2 separate regions of the Homo sapiens genome follow, and region 1 is linked to region 2. The links come from fine-mapping of genetic effects on gene expression. Tissue or cell type: spinal cord. Region 2 holds a variant in brackets; the other region holds the start of a gene. All regions are shown on one strand. Distances are between the middles of the regions.

Region 1 (8,189 bases), 54 kb before region 2:
ATTGGTAGTTATGTTTTGGAGGAGTCAAAAGTTATATGCAGATTTTCAACTGCATGGAGTCATTGCCCTTAAACCCCTGCGTTGTTCAAGGGTCAACTGTAAATATATTTTTCATATCAGTTAGGGGACATACAAATTTCAAATATCCTAAATTAGAAGGGAAGGCTGTTTATCATCTGGGAGCACTGTTTAAAAGATGAGAGAGAAACACAGGAGTCTAAAATAACATGACTCCTGGAGAACAAAGTGGAAGAAATATTAAACCAGATACATATTAGTGCCCCTATAATAAGCATGTCTGTAAGTAGTAAGTTATTGACGTATTTAGCAATCTATGCTATCTTCCTTTTTTGTGTAACTGGTGTTGTGATGGATAAAGAAGAAACTGTCTTGAGCAACTTTCTGGAAGAAAAAGTCCATAGTATCCTTTCTTGAGGAAAGAATTTATTTCATTAAAAAATACTCTTATATCATTCTATACAATCACAAATGTTTCTCTTCAAGCAAAGACTCAAACACTAGCTAATTCTTTTACTTTTCCTAATTAAATACAAAAAGGGTAAGTTTTTTTAATTTTTAAAAACTTTAAAAAATGTTTTTACTACTGTAACCCATTATTCTGTAACAATAATTTAATTAAAATTCATTAAAGCAAACCAGATTACAGTTTTCATATTTCCATGAAAAAGAAAACTACTCTGGTTTAAGATAAAGATAAATGGGAGTCATAGATTAATTTAGATCTGAGAATGAATATAGAGAATCTTATTATTCATGGAAAACAAAGGAGAAAATATACCAGCACTTTGGGAGGCCAAGGTGGACAGACTGCTTGAGCCCATGAGCTCAAGACCAGCCTGTCCAACATGGCAAAGGAATATAAAAATTAGCTAGGCATATTGGTGTGCACCCGCAGTCCCAGCTACCTGGGAGGCTAAGGTGGAAGAATTGTTGGAGCCCAGGGAGGTCGAGACTGCAGGGAGCCGTGATTGCGCCACCGCACTCCAGTCTGGGTGACAGGGTGAGACCCTGTCTCAAAAAAAAAAAAAGAAAGAAAAGAAAATAACAGATCAAACTGAGGACCACAGATGTGGTCTCTTTATTGTGGCAACTAACCAGTGGTGTTTACATCTGTGGAGTTCCCGGAACCCAGAAGGGAAGAAGATGGAATAACTAATGCCAGGGGGAGAGGGAGAGAGAACCAATCCATATAAGAAGTCAGAAATACAGACATATAAATAGATCTAGAGAAATACACCCAAGAGGGGGACAAGATACAAGCAGTGGCAAGGAGAGATTCTACAGACAGATATGTAAAAGAATATAAATATGTGTATCTCAGGAATATGAAAGCATGCCCTCTAAAAAATTTAAAAATTGTATTGAAATTTCCTAACTATAGGCGGAAATCAAACGTAACTTGAATTTTTGAGCCAGATGAAATTAAGCAGTGTTCACTAAGCTTTTGGTAGGAGTTGAGTACTCCCTTAGTGGGCATCCTGCTTTAATGGTTAATAGGTCTGGGTAATTGACCACATGCTCTGTATTTAATATTTAAGAAAGATTAGGCTAGTGAATGATGTTAAGAGCAGGTAATTTTTCAAAGTCCTTGTGTTCACAATGAGGAAAACTAGGGGGAAATATTGATAGATCAACCTACAATATTTCCACCTGGCTTTTGCTTACAGTCAACACCCCCTACCCACCCTTGCCCATCCCCGGCCACAACTGCTCCCACCCCCATCCTATGACTTGTCTTTTAGTTCCCTGTTTATAATTCTAGGTGAAGACAAGAAAGACTACCAGTAATCCATAAAATATAATTCTCTGTGGTTAAGTGCGAGAGGACTATAGAAATGAATGCTTCCAATTCTACATTTTGGCTGAGTTTTCCTTTCAGTCTTACCTTACAAAGACCTTGTTGGCTGCCAGATGTGACACATAGATCCATTTGTCCTTGACTGGGTGGGTAATGGATGGTAGGAGGATTATGCAATTTTATTTGTAACTGTTTTAGCCAGGACAAAAGCTCTGGAATTCTAAAGCAAAAAATGTATATTTAAATTCATAGTAGTAAAAATCATAGTAACAGTAGTAGACAGGAAATAATAAATGACAGCTTTATCAAGCACTTTGTACACTCAATTAAAAAACCCTCAAATGCTTTTTGCCAGTATGAATATTCCTATTTAAAAGATAGGCAGTAGACTTAGAGATTAGGAAATTCCTGTAAGTCATTCAGCCAGAAATTCTCAGAAAGTCAATTACGTAATAAATGAGCTGAGATTTGAATCTACATCTTTCTTATTCCAAACCTGAAGTCTTTAGCGCATGCGTTGCATAATCGATTCTTTGTTCTCTCTAGGAAGAGTTCTATGGCTACCTAGAAGTTCAGACTCAATAAGTTGTTTGTATCATGGAATGTTTGAATAAGCCTATGTATATTTAACATATTACATAACTAACACATATATACATGAATAACATTTCAATACACTTTTCAATCACAGAACAAAGCAGGTTTTAATAAAGTATAATTTATAGATTCTCTATAAATTATCCTTTATCACTTGAAGAAGACCAGCTAAGAAAGTCAAGGTATATGTTTCAGCTTGCCTTTAAGAAATTAAAGACATTTGAACCTATGAGGGCAATGTATTTGAATGGCTGCTTGTTTAGACTATAGAAATGAATGACTATATTCAATGTATTTGCATGACTGCTTGTTTAGACTATAGAATGAAGAAACGGAAGATCCAGGATGCTTAAACTTTAAAAAGTTGAAGCTTCCTGGATCTTCCGTTTCTTCATTTCTCCTGATATGTTTGTTTCACCTGGACATCTTCTCATTTTTTTGGACTCAGCTCTAATGGTATTTCCTTCTAGAAGCCTTCTTGGTCATTTGCGATTGAGAAGCAATCACTGAGGAGTGTTAAACATTCAATATCCTTTCTGTTCTTAATTATCCTTTGAAAACCTTTCCCCAGACCTTCCTAACCATTGAATACTCATTTGGTTAGTATTCAATGACTGAGTATTTGGTCATTGAATGACCAAATGGGTCAATGGCTTTAGAATATTTATGAATGGACCTTAGAATATTTCTTTAATATTCTTTATCAATGGGCCTTAGAATATTTCTTATGAAAATAAGCCAATAAAATTATGTTAAGTATTGATACTTACCCAGCACTCGGAGAATACTGAAGTGCTCTCTTCATCATCTCTTCTCCAAATTGGATGGTCTTTCCATTTTCTACAGTGATTACGGCAGTCTTAAAAGGAAACATGTTTGGATTTGGTAAGCCACCAGCCAAGGAGATCATCGATTTTGGTCCTCTGCTCAATATGTCAGCTACAATACACATGGAAGAGAAGAAACAATTTCATTGAAGATTGTTATAAGCGGATAGTTAAGCATGCATTATAGTCAATAAAACTATAAAGTTTAACGATTTCTAGTGATAGAGTGTGCTATGGTCTAAATGTTGGTGCTCCCCCAGATTCATACTTGGAAGTTAATACTAATGTGATAGTTTTAACAGGTGGGGTCTCTAGAGGTGATTAGGTCAGGAGGGATCCACCCTCCTGAATGGGATTGGTGCACTTATAAAAGAGGGCTGAGGGAATGCCCTTGGCCCTTCTGCCACGTGAGGACATAGGTTCTCCCTTCTACCACGTGAGGATGCAGCAAGATGGCTCTGTCTATAAGGAAGGGCTCTCACCATGGTGACACAGAAGCTGCTGGCACTTTGATCTTAGACTTCCTAGCTTCCAGAACTGTGAGAAATAATTCTATTGTTCATAAATTACCCAGTTTGTGGTATTTTGTTATAGCAGCCTGAATGGACTAAGACAAAAGCTAGTCTAAAATAAACATACAGAATAACTTTTTCTAGGCACCTCACTTGTGGAGGGACTAAAGAATGAAGGTGACCAAAGAGAAGGCAGAGGGATCAGAAAGACAGCAAAGGGCCACAATAGCAGAAGCCCTCCTCCACTTAGCCCCGACCTGTCTGTGAGCTTCATGGCCCACCCCTCTCCCATTTACCTGGCCCTCTCCACTGTACACCCATCTGCACGCTGTGCATGCCCCTTCTCAGCTTCCCAGGAAGAGCCTTTCTTGATAGCACGCCCCCTCCCTTCCAAGGCCGTGCCCCACAGCAGTCTGCGCCTCTCTCTACTGTTGCTCCTACTCTGCTCCAGCAGAAATACCCGCCTTCCGTTTCAGCCCGAGTTCTTTGAGAACAAAGGCTGTGTCTATTTCATTTCTGCACGCAGAGCCTGGCTCACCGCGAGCGTGCACAGGGGTACGCATGGATGCAACCAAGCGGTGGCTTGCTAGGGAACCCTCCTTAGAGGCTGTGCGAGGAATGCCCCACCCCAAAGGAGAGATGGTCACCCCGTTTCTCACTCATGGTCCGGATGGGAGAAGGGTTTCTGGCTGCGCTCGCTGCCGTGATGAACCGTGCGTAATTCATGTCTTCTGACAGCCAAGCATCAAGCTTCTTCTTCAGTGGTTGAGGACTAGAAAAACCAAAGAGCCTCGTCAAGTCCTGCCTGCTAACTCCTCACTCTGGCAACGCCACCGCGAGATGTGTCCCCCCGCTGCGTCTGGCTTCCCGCGCGCGGTGCCCGGAGAACGCCGCCGAAACTCCCCGGCTGGACGCTGCGTTCGGTCTCCCGGTCCTAAACGGGTCTGGGGCTGTGTGGCGAGCCCGGCAAAGTCCACGCCGCACGCGCTCCTGCGGCCGCCAGGGCCCAGGCCGGTTTTGCCCCGCCGCGGGCCTCGCCGCGCCCCCTCCCGCCCCGCGCCGTGGCCTATGGCCGCCCGCGGCGCGCGCCTCCCCGTCCCGGATCATCGCCCTCAGAGCGCAGGGCGCGGGGTAGCCCAGGCGCGAGGCGCTTGCAGCCCCAGGCCAATGACTCTTGACCTCGCCGCTGGGAATCACCGCAACCCGGCGTCCGCGTTGGCCGGCCTAGGCGCCGGCCCAGAGGCTAGCCCAGGGGCTGACCGAGGGGACCGGAAGTGCCCGTGATCCTAATCCTCGGGAACCATCTGGCGGCGACTTGGGTCCACTGCAGGGGGCTCCCGAGCTGCGCCCAGCCGGGAGCGGCCCCACCCTCGTTCCCGCGCGCTCCGCTGGCCTCCTCTCAGTCACTGGGACTGTGCATTTTGCCCGCTCAGACCATGGCTATGCTAAATACCCATCTTTCGTTAGTGAAACTCTGGGCACTCTCCTGGGAAGCATCCCGGCGACCAAGACGAATTTCAACATCACTTTCTCGAAGATCTCAGCATTTTGGAGTGACGATGGAGTTCTGACAAAAATTTTTGAAAAATCACTCTGAGTCTCTTCAATTTTAGTGTCTACCCTCACATTGAATTTCTGACCTTTCGTTAAATAAGAATTATGTTGGAAGTGAATATCCGGATCTTTTTGGGTCTAGCACCTTGCCTTTTTTTTTCTTACAAAATAACCCTTCTTACTCCCCACCTCCCTCAACTTTTCTGCAATTTCTCCTTCCTGAATCACCAAAATGGAATGTACAAGGTTTAATGTGAGCACTTAATGAGGGAAGGGTTTCAGACAACCTCTCTTTGACTTTAAAAAATTCTTTAATGGTTATTAAAATGAATGAACAGATTCATTCATTCAGCACAAATTTACTGAGTACTTCCTAGATGATTATTGACTCACTGCCAAATGGCTCTCTTTTAAGTTTACCTAATAGGTTGGTCAAGGAGCCACTGCTTTTATCTAGGTCCTGGCAGCAAAAGGCTGAGATAACCCAGTAAAATCTTTGTGCTAGCAGCTAAATAACAAAAAGGAAGTATTGAGAGGTGACAGCCTGCTGGCAGCCCTCGCAGCCCTCGCTCACTCTTGGCGCCTCCTCGGCCTCAGCGCTCACTCTGACCGCGCTTGAGGGGCCCTTCAGCCCGCCGCTGCACTGTGGGAGCCCCTTCCTGGGATAGCGGAGGCCGGAGCCGGCTCCCTCAGCCTGCGGGGAGGTGTGTAGGGAGAGGCACGGGCGGGAACCAGGGCTGTGCGGGCGCTTGCGAGCCAGCTAGAGTTCCGGGTGGGCGTGGGCTTGGCGGGCCGGCACTCAGAGCGGCGGGCCGGCTCCGCCAGACCCGGGTAGTGAGGGGCTTAGCACCCGGGCCAGCAGCTGCGGAGGGTGTGCCCAGTCTCCCAGCAATGCCGGCTCACCGGCGCTACCTTCGAATTCTCGCCAGGCCTCAGCTGCCTCCCAGCGGGGTGGGACTCGGACCCGCAGCCAGCCATGCCTGAGCCTCCCCACCACCCACCCGTGGGCTCCTGCGCTGCCCGAGCCTCCCTGACGAGTGCCGCCCCCTGCTCCACAGCACCCGGTCCCATTTACCGCCCAAGGGCTGAGGAGTGCGGGCTCACAGCCCGGGACTGGCAGGCAGCTCCACCTGTGGCCCCAGTGCCGGCTCCACTGGGGGAAGCCAGCTGGGCTCCTGAGTCTAGAGGAGACTTGGAGAACCTTTATGTCTAGCTAAGGGATTGTGAACACACCAATCAGCACCCTGTGTCTAGCTCAGGGTTTGTGGATGCACCAATGGGCACTCTGTATCTAGCTAATCTGATGGGGACTTGGAGAATCTTTATGTCTAGCTAAGGGATTGTGAATACACCAATCAGCACTCTGTATCTAACTCATGGTTTGTAAATGCACCAATCAACACTCTGTATCTAGCTCAGGGTTTGTAAATACACCAATTAGCACTCTGTATCTAACTAATCTAGTGGGGACTTGGAGAACTTTTGTGTGTAGCTCAGGGATTGTAAACGCACCAATCAGCACCCTGTCAAAATGGACCAATCAGCTCTGAAAAACAGGCCAATTGGCTCTCTGTAAAATGGACCAATCAGCAGGATGTGGATGGGGCCAGATAAGAGAATAAAAGCAGGCTGCCTCAGCCACCAGCGGTAACCCGCTTGGATACTTTTGCAGCGTGTGGTGGTTTTGTTTTCTCGCAGTTTGCAATAAATCTTGCTGCTGCTGACTCTTTGGGTCCACATTGCTTTTATGAGTTGTAACACTCACCGCGAAGGTGTGCAGTTTCTCTCCTGAGGCCGTGGAGACCACGCACCCACAGGGAGGAGTAAACAAATCCAGCCGAGCTGTCTTAAGAGCTGTAACACTCACCGCCAAAGTCTGCAGCTTCACGCCAGCAGCCAGTGAGACCACGAACCCACCAGAAGGAAGAAACTCCCAACACATCCGAACCTCAGAAGGAACAAACTCTGGACACACTGACTTTAAGAACTGTTAACACACCGCGAGTGTCTGCGGCTTCGTTCTTGATGTCAGTGAGACCAAAACCCCACCAATTCCAGGCACAGTATCTAGTAAACCTGTTAGAAACCCACGAGGCAAAATGCTTCTGCGTTCAGAGACTTCAAGTAGTTGAAATCCCATTTGATGGCTTAATAGCTGGGTGTCTTTGGACAAGTTAATTAACCTTTCTCTGTATTGGTTTTCTCGCAGGCATGTTGACAGGAATAAATGAGATAATCTGTGTTAAACTAATCAGTGCAGTGGTCTGCACGTTGTAAAAACGCTATGAACATTGGCTGTTGTTAGTAACATGCATTTAAGCAAACCTTAAGGCCTCAGCCTCCAAATGTTTTTGACTAAAGCTATTTGGCAACTTTTAAGGCCTGTTCTCAGTTAATCCATGCACACAGATCCTTATGTGTTTGAGCTTGTCCATTCTAAAAGTAGTTCCTGAATTTTTATAGAAGTTAACAAGCACCGGAAACATCTAAATAAGGTGTAGATCAAGGTAAATTGTAACTTGTAACTAGATATGTTGATGTTCCTGGGGACTTAAGGCTTTTTTTTGATAGGGGAGGACTCTAACTGAGCAAGGTTTCCTTAGATACTTAGAAGAAAATTTAAACTTTGGCCAGGAGGTGTGGTTCACGCCTGTAATCCCAGCACTTTGGGAGGCCAAGGTGGGTGGATCAACTGAGGTCAGGAGTTGGAGACCAGCCTGACCATCATGGCAAAACCCCATCTCTACTAAAAAATACAAAAATTAGCGGTGTTTGGTGGCAGATGCCTGTAATCTCAGCCACTCGGGAGGCTGAGGCATGAGCATTTTTCGAACCCGGGAGGCGGAGGTTGGAGTCAGCTGAAGCCGAGATCACGCCACT
Region 2 (8,189 bases):
TGCAGCGTGGGCTCCAGGAAAGGAAAGGAAGCCTTGACGCAGCATCATTTATGGACTTGAACACTAGGTGTCGCTCGCGCACTTGTTTTCAGCCGTAGGATTCAGAGACGGTATTTTAGGCTTAGACCCAACACTTGATTTACAGTTCTTCCGAATCTTTGCCCCACACTTATACATTGTTTTCGGATGTTTGTGCCAATCTCCTGCTAACCTATGCTCTCTGCCTGAACCTCATTCACCTGCCTCAAATTTCTGGCTTATTGAAGAACAGAACTCCTTAATTCCATTTCACTGCTTTCTAGGTCTCAACATTTTTGCTCTTCTTTTCTGAGAAGTGTTCGGCAGTATACCATATCTACACTCCCATCCATAGGCCTCTTAGTGCACCAGATCCAAAATATCTTATATAAAGGATGATATAAATATCTTACATAAAATATAAATGTATAATGTCTATAAAATATCTTTCAGTATCTTTTAATATCTAAAGTACCTTGTGTAACGATCTTATACAAAGTATGACATCTTATATAAAGTATTATATAAAGTCATTGATTCACTGAACAAACATTATTTAGTTTTGTGTGCAGCATAGAATCATCTTATGTTTTGATGTAAACACTCAAGTATTTGTTCCTGATGTATTCAGAAGAATATTTAGGGAATATGAAAATTCCCTAACACATATAAAGGATATCGTTTATCCACTGGAGTGTATAGATAGGATAATTTTTCTAAAAATATAAGATCTCTCTCTTAGAAAAGGATAAATACATTCTGTGTTGCTTCTAATGTTTGTCAGGGGAAGGAGGCCACATTGAGTTCTATTGTGAGAAAAGAAGCAGAATGAGAATGAGGTCTTTTGCATGGAAGGGATAATGAGAGTTTGGGCAGAGCAGGAAGAGACTACTAAAGAGGGGACGAAGTCAGCAAAAGGATGGACTTGGCTAGGGAGAGCCTGTATTCATGCCCCTGAGAGGTCTGAGCGTGGTTGATGACCTGGAATGGGTGTATTCTTTGTGTCCAAACCTGTGGCTCAGGGATGACCTAGCTGGGCCAGCTGTCCTCATTAAATAGTCATTATTTTTATTAAATGGAGGATCGTGCTTCATTCAAAGTCAATAACAGCTAGTATCAATGACTAAGATATTGACTGCCTAGTAGTAGCAACATCCCTGCCTACACCCAGAGATATTATCAGCCAATTACCTCATCATCTGGTTATGGGGGAATCTGTGTTCTGCGCCATGCCTTGAGCATGACACATATTTTGGCAAACCTATGTCTAGGTTTCCTTTCTGCAATACCATATGAAATAGTAAACTCGAGTGACCACTGGACTTCTAATGGGATGAGCAGTGTGGCAGAAGTTTCTGTTTTGCTAGGACCATCCTAACCTAAGAAAGTCATGAAGTAAACTCCACAGTATCGTGTATGAAATTCTATGCTAGGCATTGTAGACTAAATAGAGATGAATAAGACTTGATTCCTTATGTCTGATTCCTGTTTATGGGGCAGAATGGATACTATGGGTCCATGATAAAGTGTCAGGTCAGGAGGGGAATACATTGGGGTAAGTATTTCCCTACTTGAGACAGTAAATGCAAATAAGGTTTTGTAAGTCCCTTTACTCTTAAGGTAGGGCTCAACTCTGTTTTAATACATTTCTGACTTCTGAGTTCATTGGTTTATGTGTGAAACAAAAAGATTACTTTCTTAATTTCTTGAAAAAGTCCAATATCATCTGTAAAGTCTTTTGTTGATGTTATATGATATCACACAGAGGAAGAATTATGGGTTGGATCGTAATACTATTAGCTTGATGAGTTTCTGGCTGAACATTGAACCACACATTGCTAATCTGATATGTTTTCTGCTGGTAAATATCAGAGCCTTGTTGTGGCCCGTATTCTGTTCAATACGTTCATCAGGGATTTGGATAAAGATATGAAGGACACACTCACCAAACATGTGGATGACACAGAGTTAAGAGGGTTCATGAAAAAAAACCCTAAATGACAGAATCAGATGAAAGCGGTCCTAACATGATAGAAAGATGAACCAAACTCTAAAAGAAGTGTGATAGAGATAAACATTAAGCACTATATATATAATATATATATATATATATATATAACTTTAGTATTGTTAACCAAAATAAACTAGGTTCCTGCACTAGGCCTGACAGACCAAACCAACATAAAGTTGAACTCCAGGAGCTGAGCTTTAGTTACTGCAGGACGCTCCGTAGCCAGTTAACCAATGAAGCTGTATCCAATTCAGTTTTCTGTACACCGTACTTCTGTTTCCTATAAATGCTGTCAGATCATGTTATTAGTTGGAGTTCTCTGAACCTGCCCTGGTTCAGAGGACTGCCTGATTTGTGAATCATTTTCATTCTGTTTTTACTTTGCTTTGCTTTCCTCTGCTCAAATAAAGTCAGTTAAATTTAAATTTGGTCTAAGGTTTTTCTGTTTAACAGCATTGTTGAATCTTAACATTAGAAGTATGACAAAACAAAAACAAGCAAAAACGTAACAGAATATAATAGTTCAAAACACAATATTTGGTATTACAGTGAGACATGGTTAAATAGGTAAGGCATAAATCTCTCTCTGTGAGTTCTAGATCAGCTTATCAAGATCATTAAAATAGCAACAGCCTGAATCCTGAACTTTCATTTTGTCTCTTTGGAAACTGTATTTTTGACATTGACAGGCTTAAGGCAGCCTTATTTATTCTGAAAATAACTAGACAGAGAAGTCTTCATGAGCAAGAATATCTTAAACTTTCATGATTCCAGCTAAGAATAGCCTGTCTACAGTGTGACATATTGGCTACATTTGTCAGCCTTTTTATTCATGAGGATAGTCACACACTTTTAAGATCACCAAACAAAACCACCCTATCCATCCATTGACTTTCTTTCTCCCTTTATCACTCAAAGTGAATTCAGCATTGAATTTGTTTACCTGCATTAGGTAACAGTTTTGGAACCGGTTGCATGAGGGGAAGTAATGATACAGTTCTTTCATTCTATAATATTTTTCGTGAATCCACTGCAGTGTTTAGGGTTATCCATAGGAATGTTTAAAAGAGGTTTTCTGCAGCCGGGTGCAGTGACTCATGCCTGTAATCCCAGCACTTTGGAAGGCCGAGGCAGGTGGATCACCTGAGGTCGGGAGTTCAAGAGCAGCCTGGTCAACATGGTGAAACCCTGTCTCTACTAAAAATACAAAAAAATTAGCCGGGCGTGGTGGCGAGCACCTGTAATCCCAGCTACTTGGGAGGCTGAGACAGAGAATCACTTGAACCTGGGAGGTGAAAGTTGCAGTGAACCGAGATTTCACCAATGCACTCCAGCCTGGATGACAGAGTGAGACTCTGTCTCAAAACAAAACAAAACAAAACAAAACAAAAACTGTATCCAAGAGTAATTTTTTACTTGATTTGATACTTGAGAGATTCTCATGTATCTGAGAAGCACCTCCATCGTAAATATGTGATCCACCCCAACAACTGAAAGCATATTGGTTACAATTTTTGCAGAATTAGAGCACAGCTCATGTTCCTTCTATCTCGTTAGGCATATGGGAACATCACTCTGGATGATGATGTAATTTCACAAGTGTTGACCATTGAGGTCGCTGAGTTA[T/A]CCTTAATTTCTTGTCAGCCCTTCTGTGTGATATAGGCAGTGTTGCCTCTTACATGCTCACCAGTCTCTACTCTGTTGTCCTGATTGTTGAACTTTGGTGGTGATCACCTCACTCAGATCCACACCCACCTGTTCACCTGTTTCTGAGAGTGGTCCTGAGCATTTCCAGGTTGGGCATGGTAGAGGTTCAGTGGGACTGGTGGAGATTGAGGTGGCAGTAATGGGATCCATTATTTTAAGGATAAAACTTATAAATTACAACTAACAAGACAAAAAACCCCATCTAATCTTTAAGAACAAGATGCTACAGATTTAGCAGTAATGTTTGTGAAAATGTCTTAGGGGCTATAAAGAAGAATATTCTCAAATGAATCAACTGTAATGTAGCAGCAGAAACATCAATATGTTAAACAATATTAGTGGAAGTGAATTTGAGTGAGTGAGTGGGTGTAATCCTCCTCTTGTGAGTTGATCAGGCCACACCTGGGAACTGCTTTCAGGTTTTAGCAATATGCTTTTCTTTCAAAAATAACATTGATTATTTTTATTACAAAGTAATATATTATCACTGTAGAAAATCTAGAAAGCACAGAAAAATACATCAATTAAAAATAATCTATAACCCCGCTGATCGGATAGAATCATTAACATTTTGTTATGTCTTCTTTCAGATATATGCACACACACATAAATACATATGTACATATGATCACATTTTGTTTTGTCATCTTTTATCCCCACTTGACAACATATCTCAGTTTCTCAGTTAAGTGACATTCTGTTGTCTATTCAAACACTTTTAAAATTTATCATATAGGTATACTACACTATTATTCTTAAATATTAGAAGTAATGCTATGATGCACATTATTACAGATAAACATTTGCTTATATTCCTGAACATTTCCCTAAAGAAAATTCTTAGATGTGTAAATTCTGGATAACAAGAGTATTGGCATTACTCTTTAAGAGAGACATGGACAAACCAAGGTATGTTCAGAATAGTGACTTTATTTATGGACTGGAAACAATATCATTTGAGGATAGTTGCAAGAGAAAAAAATGGAGATTCAAAACTTTTCACATATTTCAGTGCTTGTCATTGAAAAGAAGAATTATATAAGTCAAAAATACATTGTTTAGTACCAGTAGCTTGAAGCTACAGGAGACAGATGGTACAGTACCATGTGAAATGCTTGTTACTGTCAGAGCTATTAAAAGTGAATTAGGGCGAGGGTGACTCAAGGGGAAGAGAGTGGCCTGAACTTGGAGGTACTGAGTATAGGCCAATAGCCATTTAAATGTGGCCAAGGGGATTCAGAGGCTAAGCGTGGATCTTACTAAGGCTAAGGACTTTTTTATTATTATTATTTTTATTTTTTGTATTATACTTTAAGTTCCAGGGTACATGTGCACAACGTGCAGGTTTGTTACATATGTATACATCTGCCATGTTGGTGTGCTGCACCCATTAACTCATCATTTACATTAGGTATATCTCCCAATGCTAGCCCTCCCCCTCCCCCCACCCCACGACAGGCCCAGTGGGTGATGTTCCCCACCCTGTGTCCAAGTGTTCTCATTGTTCAATTCCCACCTATGAGTGAGAACATGCGGTGTTTGGTTTTCTGTGCTTGCGATAGTTTGCTCAGAATGGTGGTTCCAGCCTCATCCATGTCCCTACAAAGGACATGAACTCATCCGGCTAAAGACTCTTCTAACGCTCTGAGTCAATAATTTGTCCTAAGTGGAAAATCTTAAGAAATGAATACCTGATGAGTTTTGTTTTTATGTTTTATTTCCATAGGTGTTTTTGGGAACAGGTAGTGTTTGGTTACATGAATAAGTTCTTTTGTGGTGATTTCTGAGATTTTGGTGCCCCCATCACCCGAGCAGTATACACTGTACCTAATTTGTAGTCTTTTATTCCTCATCTCCACCCAGCATTCCCCCCGCAGTCTCCAAAGTCCATTGTGTCATTCTTATGTCTTTGCATCCTCACAGCTTAGCTCCTACTTATGAGTGACAACTTATGATGTTTGGTTTTCCATCCCTGAGTTACTTCACTTAAAGCAATGGTCTCCAATTCCTTCCAGGTTGCTGCAAATGCCATTATTTCATTCCTTTTTATGGTTGAGTAGTATCCATGGCTGGTTAGATTGTTTTGTTGTTTGGTTGTTTTTTCATGTTGGTAGAGGGTAGTTTACACAGGGTTTTGGAAAATATAAAATAAAACCAACAGCTACAAGGTGGCTTATTTGAGAATTCAGGTATATTTTCTTGCTAAAATAATTCTTAAAGTTCACACTTACTCATGGATTTTTTTTTTTTGAGGCAGAATTTCGCTTTTGTCACCCAGGCTGGAGTGCAATGGCATGATCTCGGCTCACTGCAACCTCTGCCTCCTGGGTTCAAGCGATTCTCCTGCCTCAGCCTCCCAAGTAGCTGGGATTACAGGCATCCGCCACCATGCCCAGGTAATTTTTGTATTTTTTTTTTTTTTAGTAGAGACTGGGTTTCACCATGTTGGCCAGGCTGGTCTTGAACTCCTGACCTGAGGTGATCCACCCACCTAAGCCTCCCAAAGTGCTGGGATTACAGGCGTGAGCCACTGCACCTGCCTGGATTGTTTTGATAATGAAATAGATAATAATTTCCATTGTTATAGTGCTTATTATCACCTGGATATTTTAAAATATTAATCAGTTTTTTATTGTTTATAATCCACTCACATATGTAATAGGATGGATGCCCAGCTAAAGGTCCTATGAGGTGTTTTCCTCCCCTTCATTCTAGGGAGAGAACTATCAGAACTTGTTGTCCTTTGTGGATATGAAGGCAGTTTCCTGACAAAGGGTCTTCCTGGATGCAGCTGGAGCTGAGAGTAGCATTTGACACAGAGTAGGTGTGTGTGAATGGATGAATGGATGGATGAATGAACAGTGTAATGCCCTCTGGAGGGTGAAGAGAATACTTCCATTATGTAAGAAGAGAGATGTAATCAGACTCTGTGTTTCCCAGATGGAAAGGAATACCTGCTTGATCTTTGAGGAAGTTGATTCCTTAGAAGGAAAAAGTGACAGTGGCTTAGGGTCTACAAAGGGAGGAAACTAAGCACACTGCTCCTGGGCTTGCCCCTTCGGACAGGCTAAGGATGGGTGACTAAGGGAGATAGAAAGGCCTGTTCTGTCTTGGTCTAATTCAGAAAGAGTTGGGTTATCCTCTCTTTAAGGTCTACTTGGTTCCTCTGTGGGAACAGAATGAATACCAGCCCCGATGACCAGCACCAAAACCAGCATCAGAATCAGCATCATCTCTTGAAAGGGGACTAGGGGTATTAGCTCCCATGTGCCAGCAAGAAGCAGTGGCATTAGTAACACTGTTAGAAGAGTAAAGTTTCTTTTTGCTTGGATATAGAAGTTGGACTGCATTCTCATATTTGGGCTGAGAAAGCTATTACGTTCTTGGGTAATGTAAGGATAAGTTTGCCTCTAAAGAAAGATCTAGGAGAATGTAAGCTAACTGGAAGTAGAAATTCCTGCTCATTTTGTTTATTGATGTGTCCCGCGCATAGAACAATGACCGACACATAGTAGTGACTCAATGAATATTTATTGTATAAATGAATACTGTATTTTCTGCTAATGTGGCAAATAGTGCTTAAACTATTAATCAGGAAAGTAAAAATGTGATGACATGTTCTGATTTGTGGAGCATTTATATCATCTCTTAATTATATATTTGCACATAAATAAGAAGATGGGAATATATGGAAAAAGACTACATTTTTATTCTGAAATCAGAACTCTTTTTAACTCACCTCAATACTACAACCTACCTAAACATAATTTTGTTAATGTCATCACTGTTACCGGTGAGTAGATTATAATACTTATCTTTCAAATCAAATTTTTGTCTGTGTTGTGAAAGCCACAATTAGATGGAGCAAGGATCAATAAAGTATCCAGTTAATACACCAGAATATAAATGAAATGAATCATAGGAAATGAAATGACTTTTGACAAATGCTGAGACAAATGCTGTGGCACAAAACCACAGGTTGTCATTTGAAATTGATATTGTAGGGAAACTGTAGTTGCAGCATGAACTCTAATATATAAATCTTCCATGGCACAGGTGTTCACTAATTTGATTTCTAAAAATGCTAGGCATTATGAAATGAAACATATTTCTGAGCATTTCTGACTCATTTACAGATTCAGATATATTTCTTTCTTTTTTTTCCCTATAGCTCATATAAAGAGACTAAGAAGGATGTTTATTTTAGAGTTTCGAATTTTCATTTTTATTTAAAAGACTAGCCATAACTAGGCATTAAAACTTGTTTTTTGCTATCTCTTTCCTTTTTTGTAGAAAGGCTTCAAGATAGGATTTGAAAATGTCAACAACAAAATAAGACTATTCAACCTGAAGCCTTTTGGCAGAATAAATACATATTTGTGCTATATTTGATACAAATACATAAAAGAGTTTGGGTGGACAGCAGCCATTAGGCAAATTAAAGCTTCACTCT

Which allele goes with the higher level. Positions count from the first base shown, and alleles are read on the strand shown. Sizes are in standard deviations (SD) of each study's normalised expression.
For the expression in spinal cord of the gene that starts at base 4,747 in region 1, allele T in region 2 goes with a higher level than allele A (moderate effect, 0.52 SD a copy in GTEx).

Evidence for each region. PIP is the estimated chance that this variant, and not a neighbour inherited with it, causes the effect.
Region 1: AADAT starts here. The variant in region 2 is fine-mapped to the expression of AADAT in spinal cord (GTEx, PIP 0.97).

The regions. Positions count from the first base shown.
Region 1 is chr4:170,085,210-170,093,398 of GRCh38, forward strand. It overlaps AADAT (aminoadipate aminotransferase), which reads right to left and starts at 4,747. Exons shown (of 13, transcript NM_016228.4): 1 at 4,415-4,747; 2 at 3,187-3,355; 3 at 1,907-2,039. The coding sequence starts at 4,481. RefSeq lists a silencer at 3,969-4,263 and an enhancer at 6,163-6,857.
Region 2 is chr4:170,138,720-170,146,908 of GRCh38, forward strand. No RefSeq gene overlaps it. Among named protein-coding and RNA genes, the nearest start is that of AADAT, 53 kb to the left of the region's middle. RefSeq lists silencers at 1-213, 1-133 and an enhancer at 6,841-7,010. The variant T/A (reference allele first, on the strand shown) is at 3,656.